Regions from separate parts of the Homo sapiens genome. Here region 1 is linked to region 2. A link means that fine-mapping ties the variant in region 2 to the expression of a gene that starts in the linked region. Tissue or cell type: sigmoid colon. Region 2 holds a variant in brackets; the other region holds the start of a gene. All regions are shown on one strand. Distances are between the middles of the regions.

Region 1 (8,152 bases), 130 kb after region 2:
AAAGGCCCAAAAATGAGAAGAGCTCAGTGTTCACTGACTCCCAGTGAAGAAGGCTAATGAGGCTGCAGGGTAGCTAAGTGGGGATGAGAGGGCTTCTAATGGAGGCCAACTATGTGTCATGCCAAAAGGAACACTGTGCTTATCACTTCCTTTCCTACACTATCCTGAGAAGATGTCAGTGAGGTTGGCGGAGGTAAAGCTCATGGGGCCTTGAAAAGGCCACATACTGAAGACTTTGGGGCTTATTCTAAACGCAACGCAAAGCACTGGAGGATTTTAATCAAGGGCATATGATCCTCCAGCGGCTGAGTAGAGAATACACTAGGAGAAGCTGGGGCTAGCTATAAAGCCATTGGAGCAGTCCAACAAAGGGACTAAAACCCAACTCTGAAGTAGGCCAGTCATTAAAAGCAGATGGTGCTGGGGTTGGGAATGGGGATTGACTACAGAAGGGTACAAGGCATCATTTTTGGATGATGAAAATGTTCTAAAACTGAATTGTGTGCTGATTGTACAATTCAGTAAGTTTATTAAAAATCACTGGACTGTCCACTTAAAACAGGTGAATTTTATGGTATGTAAATTATACCTTATAAAGCAGTTTGAAAAGAAAGCAGATGTGGGGAGTGTATTAGTCTGTTTTCATGCTGCTGATAAAGACATTCCCAAGACTGGGTAATTTATAAAGAAAAAAGAGGTTTAATGGACTCACAGTTTCACATGGCTGGGGAGGCCTCACGATCATGGAGGAAGAGCAAGGGAAGTCTTATGTGGCGGCAGGCAAGAGAGAGCTTGTGCAGGGGGAGCTCCCCTTTATAAAACCATCAGATCTTGTGAGGCTTATTCACTATCACGAGAACAGCACAGGAAAGACCTGCCCCCATGATTCAATTACCTTCCACTGGGTCCCTCCCGCAACACACGGGAATTGTGGGAGCTACAATCCAAGATGAGATTTGGGTGGGGATACAGCCAAACCATATCAAGGAAAGTGGGAAGTGTAAATTAGCTGCCTGGGTCCCAGAAGTGAATCATTAAACTTGAACACTGAATTTTCCTGTATCCTGAAAACTCCAAAGTATCTTAATTCCAGATGACTAGCGGTTGCTTTTAGCCATATTTTAATACATGGAAGCACTTCTGCATTCCCTCTTTTCCCCAGGCCTGGACCTCAATCCCCAGGTGTCTGCAACTCTTACTTGATATACACACAATGGATAATCAATAATGATTCAGCTAAGGTAAGGACAAAGCCTTTGCCACTTTTTACCTTTATTCTTTTTAGCCAGAGCAAATAGTGATATATTAATAGGAATACTCTTAAAAAATTGCTTTAAATGCCAGACTACCTCCTTCATATGCACCACTTAAATTTCTTTTCTTACCAAATTCCCTATTCAAATCCTTTCTTTAGGATTTACAGGATTCAGATAAATATACAGTGATCTCCACTACTGTACCCCACTATTGCCCCAGCTGAAGACCTGTAAACTATTCATCAGTACAGCATGTATGTGATTTATGAGCACGCTCATATGTATTAGTTCCCTACAGTTTCCATAACAAATTATCAAAACTCGGTAGCTTAAAACAATAGCAACTTATTCTTTCATAATTCTGGAGGCCAGGAATCCAAAATCAGTCTCATGGGGAAGAAAGCATGGTGTTGGCAGGGCTCCCTCCCTCCCTCTGGAGGCTCTGCAAGAGAATCAGTTCCTTGCCTCTTCTAGCTCTGCTGGTTGCCAGGCATTTGGTGACTTGTGGCCACATCACTCCAATATCTGCCTCTGTGGTCACATTGCCTTCTCTTCGGCCTATATCAAATCTGCTTCTCTCTCTCTCTTAGGACCTTTGCGTTTGCATTTAGGACCCACCTAGATAATTCACGATAATCTCTCCATTTCAAGCTACTTAATCACGTATGCAAAGGCACTTTTCCCTTATAAGGTAACATTTACAGGTTTCAGGGATTAGGACCTGACATATTTGAGTGGCCACTGCTCAGCCTACCATATAATTTGGGGCCATCTAGCTGGGGGACGGGTGGATCACAAGAGGCCCTGTTTAATAAATGGTGGAGGTCTAAAGTGGCTCACTCATAACATACTAGATAAAACTAAGTCCTCATTGTAAATGCACAACAACAGTAAGGGCTTTGCATACATACAAATAAATTGCTGTCCTCAATTTGTTTTGGGAGTATAATATTAACTCTATGGCATGGAAACCATTTCACCCACAACACAAGTAAGATAACCGCACTAAGATTAAAAGCAATGAGCGCAGTACAGAGATAGGAGGACCACATCTCTCTCAGCACTCCTGCACCCTTACCTGATGAGCTTCCGCACAGAGAAACAGTCCTACCTAGCATGTCTCTGGGATATGTGGAAGCCCTGGTCCTTTCCCCACACGCCCCCGCCATACCCGGCCACAACGCCTTAATCTCCTGCTGAGAGAAGCAGCAAGAACTGGTTGCCAGTCAAAAAACCTGGGCAACAGCCGACCTCACTTCTACTTTCCCCTGACGTTGGAGTTCAGCATGAGGCACAAACAAAACCTGGAGCAGCCTGAGTGGGGCCTGGAGCAGAGTGCTGTGGAAAAGGATGGAGACTTTCCAGAACTCATTGTGTTGCTGATTGATGCTGATAATGAGGGAAAGCTCTGACCCCCACATGTGGTTTAAAGACAGGGCTCAAGCTGAAAGGGCCCTTGCGCCGGCATTTAACACCATTCCGTCTTGGATGCGAGGCTGTCCTCTCTACCACCAAGTCTTCCCCATCTCCTCCCCCTGTTCGCGGCAGCGCGGTAGACACAGAGTCAGCAGTCACGTTGGGGCAGGTTACTCGGTGATTCTCTTCCCCACAAATCAAATCAGTTTGCGCAGGCCCCTGTGTTCTTCAAGGTCCAGGTTTCAGCGCCACCGTCCCCAGGGGTCTTGCAATCCCCTAAAACAACAGCAGCTCATTCCAGTAAAGAAACAATTTATTGGGCATCTTCCATGTGCAGAACAAACACGAGGCACCGGAAGATTCCAGAAATGAACACGAGTCGCTCCGGGTCCTCAGAAGAACCCCACTCCCACCCCACCATCCTCGTCTCCCGGGCCGCGCCCCGCTTGTACCTGCAACCAACACCTAATCCTAAGACACCGGCCACATCTCCGCGGGGCGCCGGCGGGCGCAGCGGCCCCACCTACGTCGACCTGGCGGCTGGGACGGGGCGGCTCCCCACTCTTCGCCCCTAGGCCCCGCGGAGGCTGCGGGGCGGCTCCTCCTCCTCGGCTGCGGCGCCGGAAGCTGCCCGCGCCCGTCACTCCTCGCGGCTGTGGCGCTCGGGGCGCTGCCCAGTCCGCGCGAGCCGCGTGGGTGACGGTTAGGACGCTCTGCGAGGCTTCGTAGTTGGGGGAGGGGAGGAGGGGGGTGCTCGGCAGCTGCCCGGCGGGGACCCCTCCCGCGCCTGCGACTCCGCCCGCCGGACGCCGTCGCTGGGGCATCCGAGCGTCGAAGTCCCCACCACCGCCCGGGCGCCCTAAGGAGTGGGGGTGTACCCAGCCCGGAGTCAAATCCTGGAGCCCTGCCCCAGAAACTACCCTGGGTTCGGACCTGCACCCGGCGCCCTCTGCCGCTTCTCCCACAGCCTCCTAACTGGTCTCCGGCCCTACTCTTGCCCCCACCCGAGCGCCTCGGGCCACTCTCGTAGCTGTCCCCACCGTGGTCTTCCCAGATAACTCACTGACCCGCACCAGTCTGAGCTCTTACCTGCCAAAGAGTCAAGCCCAATCTGGAGTTGCCCGCCGGGCCTCCTACTCTGACACCCCCACCCGGCCCCACCTCACCCCCCCCTCCCATTCCCACTCCTGGCATTCCCATTTGACCATTTCAAGTTAACAGAATTCACATTTTGCAGCTCTGTTTTCTCTGTCCCCGAATGTTCAAGTTCAAACGTGTTCTCGGCATAGCTGACCCTTCTGCCTCTGGAGACTTGTTCCCTCCGCTGTGCTACAGTTACCCTCTGTCATTATCTCTAATATAGAATTTATCAGATTTTGCTGCCCAAATTATCGATCAAATGGAACGCATCCAGAAAGGCCAGTGTCTGATAGATGCAGCCTGAGGCATTTAATTCTGCTAGCAATCACATTGTGCAGACACCTACAGCAAATAACTTTTTATGTATAAGTTGATTAGAAATATTAGTAAGTCTTACATTAAATAATGTAGCTACAAATTTTAATAAAAATAGATTAAATGCCATTAAAGATTGTTTATCATATCTTTGTAGTTAATCCATTTATTGGCTTATAGAGATCTAGGATTAGCTATAGAATCGAGCATTTTTAACAGGAAGTGAAACCATAAGTATTACATAGAAAGGTAAATAATTTAGGTCTTGTGGTTGGACAAAAAGCAATTTCTAATTTTTTCTTTTTTCTATCAAAACATGAGTGTTCAATGACATAAAAATTTTCCATACCTAATACATGGTTTCCATTGGTGTCTCATTTTGTGCTTGTACCCTGGACACACACAAAAAGGTTTTTTTCTTTTCAACGTCTTTAATTAAAAGGTGTGTTAATTAGTGTAGCATGAAATTATCTACACCCACATATATGTACGAAAAGTTATGTGCCCCTGATTTTACTATAAAATTCATCACATTTTGAAGTGTCCTGCGGTTTTACAACATTTTTTAAATATTGTATTAAAAACAGCTTCTTAGCTTTTTAAATAAAGAATTAAAAGATCAAGAAAGGGATCCAAAGTCCTTTTCCATTCATTCATTCATTCCATCCATATTTATAGGGCACCTACAACATGCTATGTGTAGGTTGTGACAATAAAGCTGGGGCCCTCTCCCTCTCCCTCTCCCCCTCCCCCTCCCCCTCCTTTTCCCTCTCCAAGGTCTCCCTCTCCCTCTCTTTCCACGGTCTCCCTCTGATGCCCAGCCGAAGCTGGACTGTACTGCTGCCATGTCGGCTCTCTGCAACCTCCCTGCCTGATTCTCCTGCCTCAGCCTGCGGAGTGCCTGCCATTGCAGGCGCGCGCCGCCACGCCTGACTGGTTTTCGTATTTTTCTGGTGGAGACGGGGTTTCGCTGTGCTGGCCGGGCTGGTCTCCAGCTCCTAACCGCGAGTGATCCGCCAGCCTCGGCCTCCGGAGGTGCCGGGATTGCAGACGGTGTCTGGTTCACTCAGTGCTCAATGGTGCCCAGGCTGGAGTGCAGTGGCGTGATCTCGGCTCGCTACAACCTCCACCTCCCAGCCGCCTGCCTTGGCCTCCCAAAGTGCGGAGAGTGCTGCCTCTGCCCGGCCGCCACCCCGTCTGGGAAGTGAGGAGCGTCTCTGCCTGGCCGCCTATCTTCTGGGATGTGAGGAGCCCCTCTGCCTGGCTGCCCAGTCTGGAAAGTGAGGAGTGCCTCTTCCCGGCCGCCATCCCATCTAGGAAGCGAGGAGCGTCTCTGCCCGGCCGCTCATCGTCTGAGATGTGGGGAGCGCCTTTGCCCCGCCGCCCCGTCTGCGGTGTGAGGAGCGCCTCTGCCCGGCCGCGACCCCGTCTGGGAGGTGAGGAGCATCTCTGCCCAGCTGCCCCGTCTGAGAAGTGAGGAGACCCTCTGCCTGGCAACTGTCCCGTCTGAGAAGTGAGGAGCCCCTCCGCCTGGCAGCCGCCCCATCTGAGAAGTGAGGAGCCCCTCCGCCCGGCAGCCACCCCGTCTGGGAAGTGAGGAGCGTCTCCGCCCGGCAGCCACCCCGTCCGGGAGGGAGGTGGGGGTCAGCCCCTCTGCCCGGCCAGCCGCCCCATCCGGGAGGGAGGTGGGGGGGTCAGCCCCCCGCCCGGCCAGCCACCCCATCCGGGAGGTGAGGGGCGCCTCTGCCCGGCCGCCCCTACTGGGAAGTGAGGAGCCCCTCTGCCTGGCCACCACCCCGTCTGGGAGGTGTACCCAACAGCTCATTGAGAACGGGCCATGATGACAATGGTGGTTTTGTGGAATAGAAAGGGGGGAAAGGTGGGGAAAAGATTGAGAAATCGGATGGTTGCCGTGTCTGTGTGGAAAGAAGTAGACATGGGAGACTTTTCATTTTGTTCTGTACTAAGAAAAATTCTTCTGCCTTGGGATCCTGTTGAACTGTGACCTTACCCCCAAACCTGTGCTCTCTGAAACATGTGCTGTGTCCACTCAGGGTTAAATGGATTAAGGGCGGTGCAAGATGTGCTTTGTTAAACAGATGCTTGAAGGCAGCATGCTCGTTAAGAGTCACCACCACTCCCTAATCTCAAGTACCCAGGGACACAAACACTGCGGAAGGCCGCAGGGTCCTCTGCCTAGGAAAGCCAGAGACCTTTGTTCACTTGTTTCTTTGTTCACTTGGTTATCTGCTGACCTTCCCTCCACTATTGTCCGATGACCCTGCCAAATCCCCCTCTGCGAGAAACACCCAAGAATGATCAATTAAAAAAAAAAAGATCGAAAAAAAAAAAAAAAAAAGAAAGCTGGGAACAAATACAGTCCCTACCCTAGTAGTGCTTACATTCTTGTAGAGGAAGATGAGCAATGCACAAATAGACAAGTTCAAATATGCCAGATGGGGATACGTGTTGTGGAGACAGAGGTAGGAGGTTAGGGAGTGTGGGGCTGCTGTTTCATAGTGAGGTCTTGAAAAGGCCTCATTGATAAAGTGACATTCAAAAGAGACTTGTAGGGCTGGGGGAAGGGATCTGTGTGGTTATTGTGGGACAGAGCTTTTCAGGCATTTGGTTGGTGTGTTTGAAAAAACCCAGAGGCTAGTGAGGACTGAGCAGAGTGGATGAACAAGCAGAGGTTGGGGCGTTGTGGTCATTTAGGGCCCAAGTCACCGAGAGCTCTTTAGTAAGAGTCCATGCATAGGTCCAAGGTTGTTGTGTCTCCCTTCACTGGTTCTTACTCTGCACTAGACCCTGTGCTGGGTACTGGGGAGATGCAAAGAAGCTCCAGTTTCTGCCCTCAAGGAACCTGTGTCCCTCCTAATGTCAATCCAAATGGTGGCTGGGGTTTGTGAGGATGCAGTTAAGACTCAGGAACATGGAACCCAGGCCTGATCTGAGCTTTGGCACTAGCTTGGGCAAGCCATTTGAACTTACAAAGCGTTAGTATTTTCATCTGCAAAATGTGAGATGTAGAAATATCAGAAGGGGCTTTTCTAACTGAAGAAAAAAAAAAAACAAGAAAAAGCCCTATGATTTTATAAAATCAAAGCATAGAACTTTATCTTAATACAAAAACTTTTGTTAAAATTGTGTCAGAAAAGTACTTCAGACATAATATACATAATGCATATACAGGGTCACTTAAAATTTAATTCACAATTTGCTAAGTTCAAAAAAAGTCTTGGTTCAGCCAACACAACGAGCTTTGTAAACAGGTGGTACTTAGGAAAAACCACATATTTTAATTTAGCATATGGTGTAGATTATATGAAATTACTTTAACCATTGTGTTTCCTTTATGATCTAGACCTTGAAACTTTTCTTTGGCCAAAGATCTTCAAAACTAAATACAGTGTTAAAGCAGAGTTACAGAGCAGCCTGGATTAGGGGGATAGATATTTTCCTTTCCTGACTATGGTTTAAAACTTTCTGTTGTACATTTTATTGGGCAACGACTTTTCCCCAGTGCCCAGTACAGAGCTGGACATATAGAAGTCATCAATATATATTGTGGTGGAGGGGATAAGTGGCAAGTCATCTCTAATACATAGTATTAGTATGCAAGTACATAGAGCATAAAATATTAAAAGACCATGTAGTTAATGTTCTGACATTCTTCTCTCCACCAGCGACACAAGGAGAGAAATATATCTAATTAGAAAGCTTGAGTTCAATAAACAAATATTTATTGAGCACCAACTGAGTATCAGGAACATCAGTGAACAAAACGGACCCAAACCCTGCCCTCATGGAACTTACGTTTCAGTGGTGGGGGACGGATCATAAATAATCACCGTGACAAAATTAATGCACTAGAAGGTGGTAAATGCCATGGGGACAAAGGAAGCAGGGAAGGAGAAGAGGAAGTGTGGGATGGATTGTGACTGAGTCCAAACTTGTTCTTCTTGCCACATCACGTCAATAAGTCAAGAGACAAGGAGGTGGAGGAAGGAAAGCGACTTTATTTT
Region 2 (8,152 bases):
GGGATCATGAAGAGTCCATACAATGACCAGGTGGCAGTCTCAGATTCTAATTCAATGGAACTATTATTTTTTTTCTACTGATAGACACCTTGTCTCAAGCTTTTAAATCACCAGAGCCCAGTTCATGGGGCTAAGAAGTAACAGTTTTGCAAGTGGTTCTGAAGGAGGTGCTCCTCCTGATGCTACACCCATGTATGCTGAATATGGGAAAAACAGCATATATTGGTTGCTGGTGCAGAATAAATAATGAATGTTGGTGTGGGCAGAAATTTGTTAGGCAGGGTCAGCAAATCCCAATCCAGAATAAGTTACTATTCCAGTAAAGATAAATTACTGCCCCTTTCATGATAATGGAAGAGGTCTGGGACATTCTTTGAACCCACTCATTCAACGACCATTATGACCTCCTTCTAGCTTGCCTTCCTACTGTAGAGGCTGGAAAACTAATGGCTGCATTTCCCAAACTCTCTTAATGTTTCAACTCATTAAAGTGCCCACATGTTTGGAAGTCCAAGGGAGCACCAAGGGGAGAGCTGATCCTCTGCAAGCCAGTCTGGCTTTCAGGTGCTGAGCAGCAGAGGCTACGGGAAGTGGTAGTCTGGAGGGAATCCACTTCTTTCCCCAGGCACATTGTTCCTGGCTTTGTTCCATTCAAACCTAATTCACATCAGGGACTTTAGTTTTATTTCCTGGACAAATAAATATTTAACAGAAGCAGTGGCCAGATCAGGTTTGATGAGGGAAATCCAAGTTGCTAAACCCCCGTGTAGCCTGTGATTCTGCTACTATGCCTACTTCGCTCATTGGGCAACACTGGAGTGCCTGCAGAAAGGAGAGAGTTGGCATGCAGGAGCCAGGTCAACCTCTTCTCTTGACTATTGAGCACTTCCTCTCCAGTGGGGGCCTTTGGGTGGCATTCACAAAGAACCAAATATCCTCATACTCTGGATTCATTCTCAGAGATCCCATAGATACCTCTTCCTCTGAACATCTTTGTCACCAGACTTGCATTCTTGATCCTTCCATGTCTTGGCTGCTGAGCTACACCGTCAGCTAATGACCATTAACTGGTGATATCTGTGCCTCATACCATTTCTCCTTTCAGACAAAGTGGTCAGCAAGATAAAATGCTTAAAATTCTGCCTTCTGGAAGATTCCTCTTTGTTGATCTTCAGGGTCACCCTCAAGTTGGCCTATAATGTTGCTGTAGTCTACTTGTGGCTGGTGCTGTCATATTGTGCTGGTTGCTGTCTAGTCAGTTGGACTTAGAGAACATACCATGAAGTCAGAGGTGTAGGCTGAGGAAAAAATGGTAATGTGGTAGGAGTGGGAACACCATGCAATTTGTTGTGTCTTCAATTTCTGCTCAAGCCCAATCTTATGTAGGAAACTTTCACTTGATCATAAGAAGCAATACAATTTGGTAATTTAATATGTGTACTTTGAAGCCAGGGGGCCTGTGTTCTAACCAAGTCCTGCCACTTATTAGATATATGACTATGGTCAAATTGCTTTTATCCTCTCTCTGCTTCAATTTTCTCATCTAAAATAGGGATGATTACAATAACAGTACTATTTCCCAGAAATGTGGTGAGGATTAAAGGAAATGTTGCAAGTAAAGTACTTAGAGCAGAGCTTGGCACACTGTGCACACACACTAAATGTTAGCTGACTTTATGGCGTGGTGAATCAGATAGTCCCCAGCTTATGATGAGTGCTAGCCATGAGATTAGGCTGCTGTATTTACCAGTGCTCAGCAACAAGCCAAAATCTGTTTCTCAAAAGGAGAAAAGTTACATGCCACAGAATCCGTGGCTTGGCTGCAAAACTCTCAGAGCCTGTGCTGGATGTTCCAAAGCTCCATTCAGCAGCCCTGTCTGCCACAGGCATTTCAATAACATTGGATCCACTGGATCAGAAGACAGAGCTTCCTGGACCAGTGAGAAAGCATACTCTTGCTTCAGGCTGCACTCAAAATTGGCAACCTCTCAGATTATTAAAAAAACTAGCTGAAACAGCATGTCTAAATCTGGTCTCCAAAATTCAAAGACACACCATTATAGAGTATTTCCAACACCCAGTTATAATACATATAAATAATCTGAGCAGCATAGATAATAATAAAAAGCTGTCAACTAGGAAGTGATGAGTTTGTAATTATCTTTGTTTTTCACATCATTTATTTAACTGTAAGTATATATAATTTGTTTTAATAATGGTTGTGTTTAGCAATCAGCTCACTAAATTCTTGAAAATTTGTCAGTTGACCTTTGTGAGTTGGTACAACCTGTCTCTAGCACCTTATTGACTATAGAATTCAAGGCAATGAGGGATGTTAGGAGCAAAGAATGAAGAGAATTGTTTTCCCCTACCTCCAGTAAGGTTACTCCCACAAAGAATAACATTACAGAGTCTTCATGAAAGATGGAAAAAGCCTCATCATGAAGGGAGATTTTCTCTGACGAGGAAGGCTGCATTAATTCAGGTGTGCCAAGAAGCAATGGCAAGATGGGAATAGATGTTCTTGAGCTTTACTGAAGGAAGGAATGGGAAAAGATAGAGAGAGCTTTAGACTGTGATGCCTGTCTGATATCTGTGGAAGGAATAAGGGAAGGAAAGAAGATTGGTGTAAGAAGAATCTTGGACTGTAGCACAATTCAAATAAAGGTTTCGCCAGTCCAGCAGGAAGTCCTCAAGTTGAAGTTGCCTAGAGGAGGAGTTTCACTTCTTGCCAGAATGGGACTACCTTGGTGCTTCTGGCATGCTCAGTCATTGGTTAGGGGTAGCCCATGAGAAGCATGGCCTCAGTGTGAGGGTGGAGGATCCAGGGAGGCAGCAATTTGGTCCACCAGCCAATGATGCTCTCTGCAGCAGATGATCTGAGTAGCATATTTTCATAGGGTTGGGAGTTTAGGGTACTTGGAGCCCACCGTATCTTCCCATATGTTCCCATTTCAGGATTCAGGGTCTCACTTTTTCCAAACAATGTTCTAGCTTCACATAAGGTATCCTAAAAACCTGTGAATTCAAATGATGTCTTAACTTAGCAAACTAAACAGTCAATTATCTCTCTCTCTCCCAGTTCAACAGTTTCAAGACATATTTCTTTAGAAAATTCCAAAGAGCCCCTGATTTGGGGATTTGTGTTTGTTTTAAAATATGTCCACAAATTGGCCAGGCTGGTGGCTCACACCTGTAATCCCAGCACTTTGGTGTGCCAAAGGCGGGTGGATCATGAGGTCAGGCGATCAAGACCATCCTGGCTAACACGGTGAAACTCCATCTCTACTAAAAAATACAAAAAATTAGCTGGGCATGGTGGCAGGCAACTGTAGTCCCAGCTACTCGGGAGGCTGAGGCAGGAGAATGTCCTGAACCCAGGAGGCAGAGCTTGCAGTGAGCCGAGATAACACCACTGCACTCCAGCCTGGGCGACAGAGCAAGACTCTGTTTCAAAAAAAAAAAAAAAAGTCCACAAATTATTTGATACTTTTTCAAAATGTGGTGTCTAATTCCCTCCACTCAAGTGTAGTTAGTGACTGTAGTTAGTGGGCTGTACTTAGCGACTTGCTTCTAATGAAGACAATGTGGGAAAGGTGATGATGCCTGATTTCTGAGTCCCAATCACATCAGGTGAAATTGTGGCTTCCTTCTTGTTCTCACTTGGATCATCTGCTCTGGGAGTGTCTAGCTGCCATGTTGTGAGGACACTAAAGTTGTCTATGGAGAGGCCCACATAGCAAGGAACTAAAGCCTTCTTCTAGCAGCCATGGGGCAAGCCATCTAGGAAGTGGATCCTCCAGTCCCTAGTAAGTCTTCAGATGAGACTGCAACCCCTGCTGACATCCTGACTGTAGTCTTACGGGAGGTCCTGAGCCAGAACCACAAAGTTGCTCTTGAATTCTTGAATCACAAAAACCACTATAATGTTTGTTGTTTTAAGCCATTAAGCTTAAGATTTATTTGTTAAGCAGTAATAGGTAACTAATATAGATTTTGTTACCTGGAAGTGGAGTGCTGCTATAACAAGAACCTAAAGTGTGGGAGGGAGAAGAACTGGGTAGTGGGGTGGAAGCTGGAAAATTTTGAGAAGACTGTTAGTAAAAGCTTCAAGGGCCTTAAAAACACTGTTAGTAGAAGCCTTTGAGGAGGTGACAGCTTGTAGGAAAATGAGGTAATGTTATTGGAAAGTGGGAGAAACAGTCTCCTTGTTATGAAATAGCAAAAAGTTTAGCCCACATGGAATGTAGAAAAGGCAGCTGATGAGCTGGATGATCTAACGAAGGAGATTTTCATACAGAATGTTGAAGATACTGCCTGGTTTTCATTTGCTGCTTACAGCAAAATGCAAGAAGAAATAGATAAGCTAAAGCAGGACAGCTTAAAAAGAGGAACCAGGATTTTATGGTTTCGAAATGTCTAGCCTCTTGGATAGCAGATAATGTTTAAATTAAGGAATGATATGGGGCAAAGACAAAATCCAGGACATTGCCAGGAAAACATGGTCTAAAGAAGACTCCAAGGATGTAAGGATGTAACTGTTAAATCCTTTGTTAAGACCTCAGAAAGATAAAAGGTGTTGCCTCAGCGTACTGTTCAACTAGACAAAAGGCTCCCTAAAATTTTCTTAGGTGTGCTACAGTTTCTTTTGATC[A/G]AACAAATAAAGCTTCTAAGAAGCTGAAGATGTTGTTCTTCACCAGAAGCCCATGGTAGAGAAGGGCTTATCTTGAATTGATTTGTAGATTTGGCTTTTGAAAAATGGCATGGACCCAATAAGAGTCACAGGAAATCTGTAAAGTTTTTCAAAGAATTGTATTGGAATAAAAACTGCCAGCTTGGACTAAAAGGGACAAAGACAGTATGAAATGAAAAGAGGCCTCTGGATCTCCATAGTTCTACTGGCAGAAAGCAGACTGAGAGAACTTCTCAGCTACACATATGTGCTTCCATTATAGAACAGATGACTCAGAGGACATAACCAAGAAAGTGGAAACAAAGGCCATGCAGAATTATTCCTAGTTGAACAAAGTTCTAATTGAGGACCTTCTACAATTTCCTTGGCTGCTTTACAGAATTGCCATGGAGCAGTGACTCCTGTATGCCTCTATTTTTCTCCTATTTTTGGAATATGATTGTATATGGTGATTATATTGTGTCTGTTCTACTATTATATGTTGGGTGATGTTACAGAGGGTGGGGGTGGGAGGGATAGGCATATACCTTTCTGTCTTCAGATTGAAAGGAAATGCATTAGAATAATTGTACTTAGGAAGTACATCTAAGCAGTTTCATCTGTACCTGGGCCTGATTCAGATTCTAACATTCTGGATTCCAAACTGATGCTGTAAAGGGGTTATGGGAGGATTTTGTAAGGGTGGGGCTGTGGGGGTAAGTATATTTTACATATGAAAAGAATGTAAGTAATTTGTGGCTAGAGGACAGATTGGTCTTGTCTTAAAATATGTTCACAAATTCTGTGATACTCTTTCCTTCAAAAGATGAAGCTTGATTCTGCTTTTCTTGAGTGTGGGCTGTGCTTAGTGGCTTATTTCTAAAGAATAGAATGTAGCAGAAGTAGCGATGTGTGATTCCAAAACTAGACTGTAAAAGGCATTGTGTTCCCTCTTTGCTTTCCCTGAGATCACATGCTCTGGTGCAGATTTTCTCAGCCCAGGCAATATTGATGTTTTGGATCGAATTTTTCTTATTATTCTTTGTTGTGAGGGACTGTTCTGTGCTTTGTAGAATATTTAGTATCACCTCTGGCCTCTACTCACCCAAAATTCCCAGAAGTTGAATTGCTATGTCAAAGGATATATGTACATGCAGCTACACACACACACACACACACACACACACACACACACTCACATAGTTGTTTATTCTGTCTTGTTCTTTAAGGTTTTTGGATATAGAGTGCTAAGTTGCCTCCAAAAAGGTTGAATTTTTTCCCTATTAAAATATATTGTTTATATTTGAATTTATTTTTATCATTGGTGAACATTTTTAAAAATGAACATTTAAAAATGAATTTGGTCTATTGCATTTCTTTGTGACTTAGCTCAATTTTCTCCTGGGGCATGAGCAATGGTGTGCTCACAGGGCCTGCTTTCACTGTGGGCAGAATAGGCAGTATTACACATTCTGGTTAGAAGAGGTGGGGAAGCCCTGCTTTCCCCCATCACCCTCCAAGGTAGGTGTGCAGGGTATAAAATTCTTACATTAGAAATGCATTATTTGCCCACTTTTTAATGGGATTATTAGTTCTTTTGCTGTTGAGTTACTTGTATATTTTGGATATTTGTCCCTTGTTGGATGAATAGTTTACAAATACATAATGAAATCTAAGTTGGCTATAGAATGAAATCTTGTCATTTGCAACAACATAGATGAAACTGGAGGATATTATATTACGTGAAATAAGCCAAGCACAGGAAGACAAATATTGCATGTTCTCATTCATATCTGGGAGCTAAAAAAGTTGACCTCGTGGAGGTAGAGGGCAAAATGATAGTTACCAGAGGCAGGGAAGGGTGTGTAGGGGGTGGGGGAGGAATAAAGAGAGAGGTTGGTTGGTTAATACAGACAGTTAGATAGAAGGAATTAATTGTAATATTTGACGCCAGAGTAACAAAGTACTATATATTTCAAAATACCTAGAAGAGAGGACTTGAAATGTTCCCAACACATAGAATGATGGATACTCTAAATACCCTGACTTGATCATTACACATTCTGTGCATGTAACAAATACCACATGTACCCCATAAAAATGTACAAATATGACATATCAATAAAAAAATGCATTATTTTAGTTTGTCCTCCCTCTAAACTGATTTTAAAATATCAAACAAGTTCACTGTAAGGTACTGGTGACACATCAACTTTCTTTTTGACAAATGTTCACAGATAACAATATTTACAGTTCCGTGGTTGGGTGGATGGGTGGAATCAGAAAGCAGTTAAAGAATAATACTGAGGCCAGGTGCAGTGGCTCACACCTGTAATCCCAGCACTTTGGGAGGCTGAGGCGGGCGGGTCACAAGGTCAGGAGTTTGAGACCAGCCTGACCAACATGGTGAAACCCCGTCTCTACTAAAAATACAAAAATTAGCCAGGTGTGGTGGCACATGCCTGTAATCCCAGCTACTCAGGAGGCTGAAGCAGGAGAATCACTTGAACCCAGAAGGCGGAGGTTGCAGTGAGCCGAGATTGTGCCAACCGCACTCCAGTGTGGGCAACAGAGTGAGACTTTGTCTCACAAAAAAAAAAAAAAAAAGAATAATACCAAAAAGAGGAAGAAGACAAGAAACGAGATAAAGGGACACCCCAAACTTTGCCCTCATGGTGGCTTTGCTAGATCTGTCCTGGTCTAATCTACCTCATTCTCTCCCAAGAAGATAACTGTCAATGCTTTTAAAAAAATCTCTTGGACATTTACAGCCTATATTTTGGTGGTACATGCTAGTGCTTGACCATTCTTGATATTCATTTATTCATTCACTCAATAAATACATATTTTGAGCCTCTACCGTGTAGGACACTAGGCACCCTATAGGTCACTGGGAGAAAACTATAAATTCCCTGCCCTTGTGAGCTTACAATCCAGTGAGGGAAACACACCTTTAATCAAAGAAGATAATATGGAGAGTGACATGGGCAATTAATGGGGTGCAGGGATGGAGAACAGCAGGGGGCAGGCCTGCGGAAGTGAGGGCAAGGGCCAACTTTGGTTGGGGAGGATCTCTCTGAGGAGAAATTTGGCTTACATTCTCTCTAGTAACAGTGTGCACCTGGTGGGAATTGGGAGTCTTTCACTCATGATTACAATTATTTGAATTGTATCTAATTGTGTGAGGAGCTGGAGTGCATGGCGTGGTCCGGCAGGTCTGACTGGAGGAAGCAGAGATTGCCAATGGCACCCATGGGCTCTTCCCTTTTCTGTGTGCCGGGCCCGCTGCCCCTGCCCTGGACTCTCCCTGACTCCACCCTTCAAAACTTGCCTGTTCTCCTCTTCCTTCCTCCCTCATATTTCCCTCCATTCTTCCTCACTTCCTCTTTAAGCCTGCAAGGTTTGAGTTCACCTTACTCCTTAGTCTCTTTGCTACTTACAGTGAGGCCAACAGACCAGTATCAACTGGCAGCTTGTTAG

Evidence for each region. PIP is the estimated chance that this variant, and not a neighbour inherited with it, causes the effect.
Region 1: CCDC158 starts here. The variant in region 2 is fine-mapped to the expression of CCDC158 in sigmoid colon (GTEx, PIP above 0.99).

The regions. Positions count from the first base shown.
Region 1 is chr4:76,417,841-76,425,992 of GRCh38, forward strand. CCDC158 (coiled-coil domain containing 158) reads right to left here and starts at 3,301. Exons shown (of 25, transcript NM_001394954.1): 1 at 3,125-3,301.
Region 2 is chr4:76,292,213-76,300,364 of GRCh38, forward strand. The region is part of intron 6 of FAM47E-STBD1 (FAM47E-STBD1 readthrough); the gene reads left to right. Among named protein-coding and RNA genes, the nearest start is that of STBD1, 10 kb to the right of the region's middle. The variant A/G (reference allele first, on the strand shown) is at 4,655.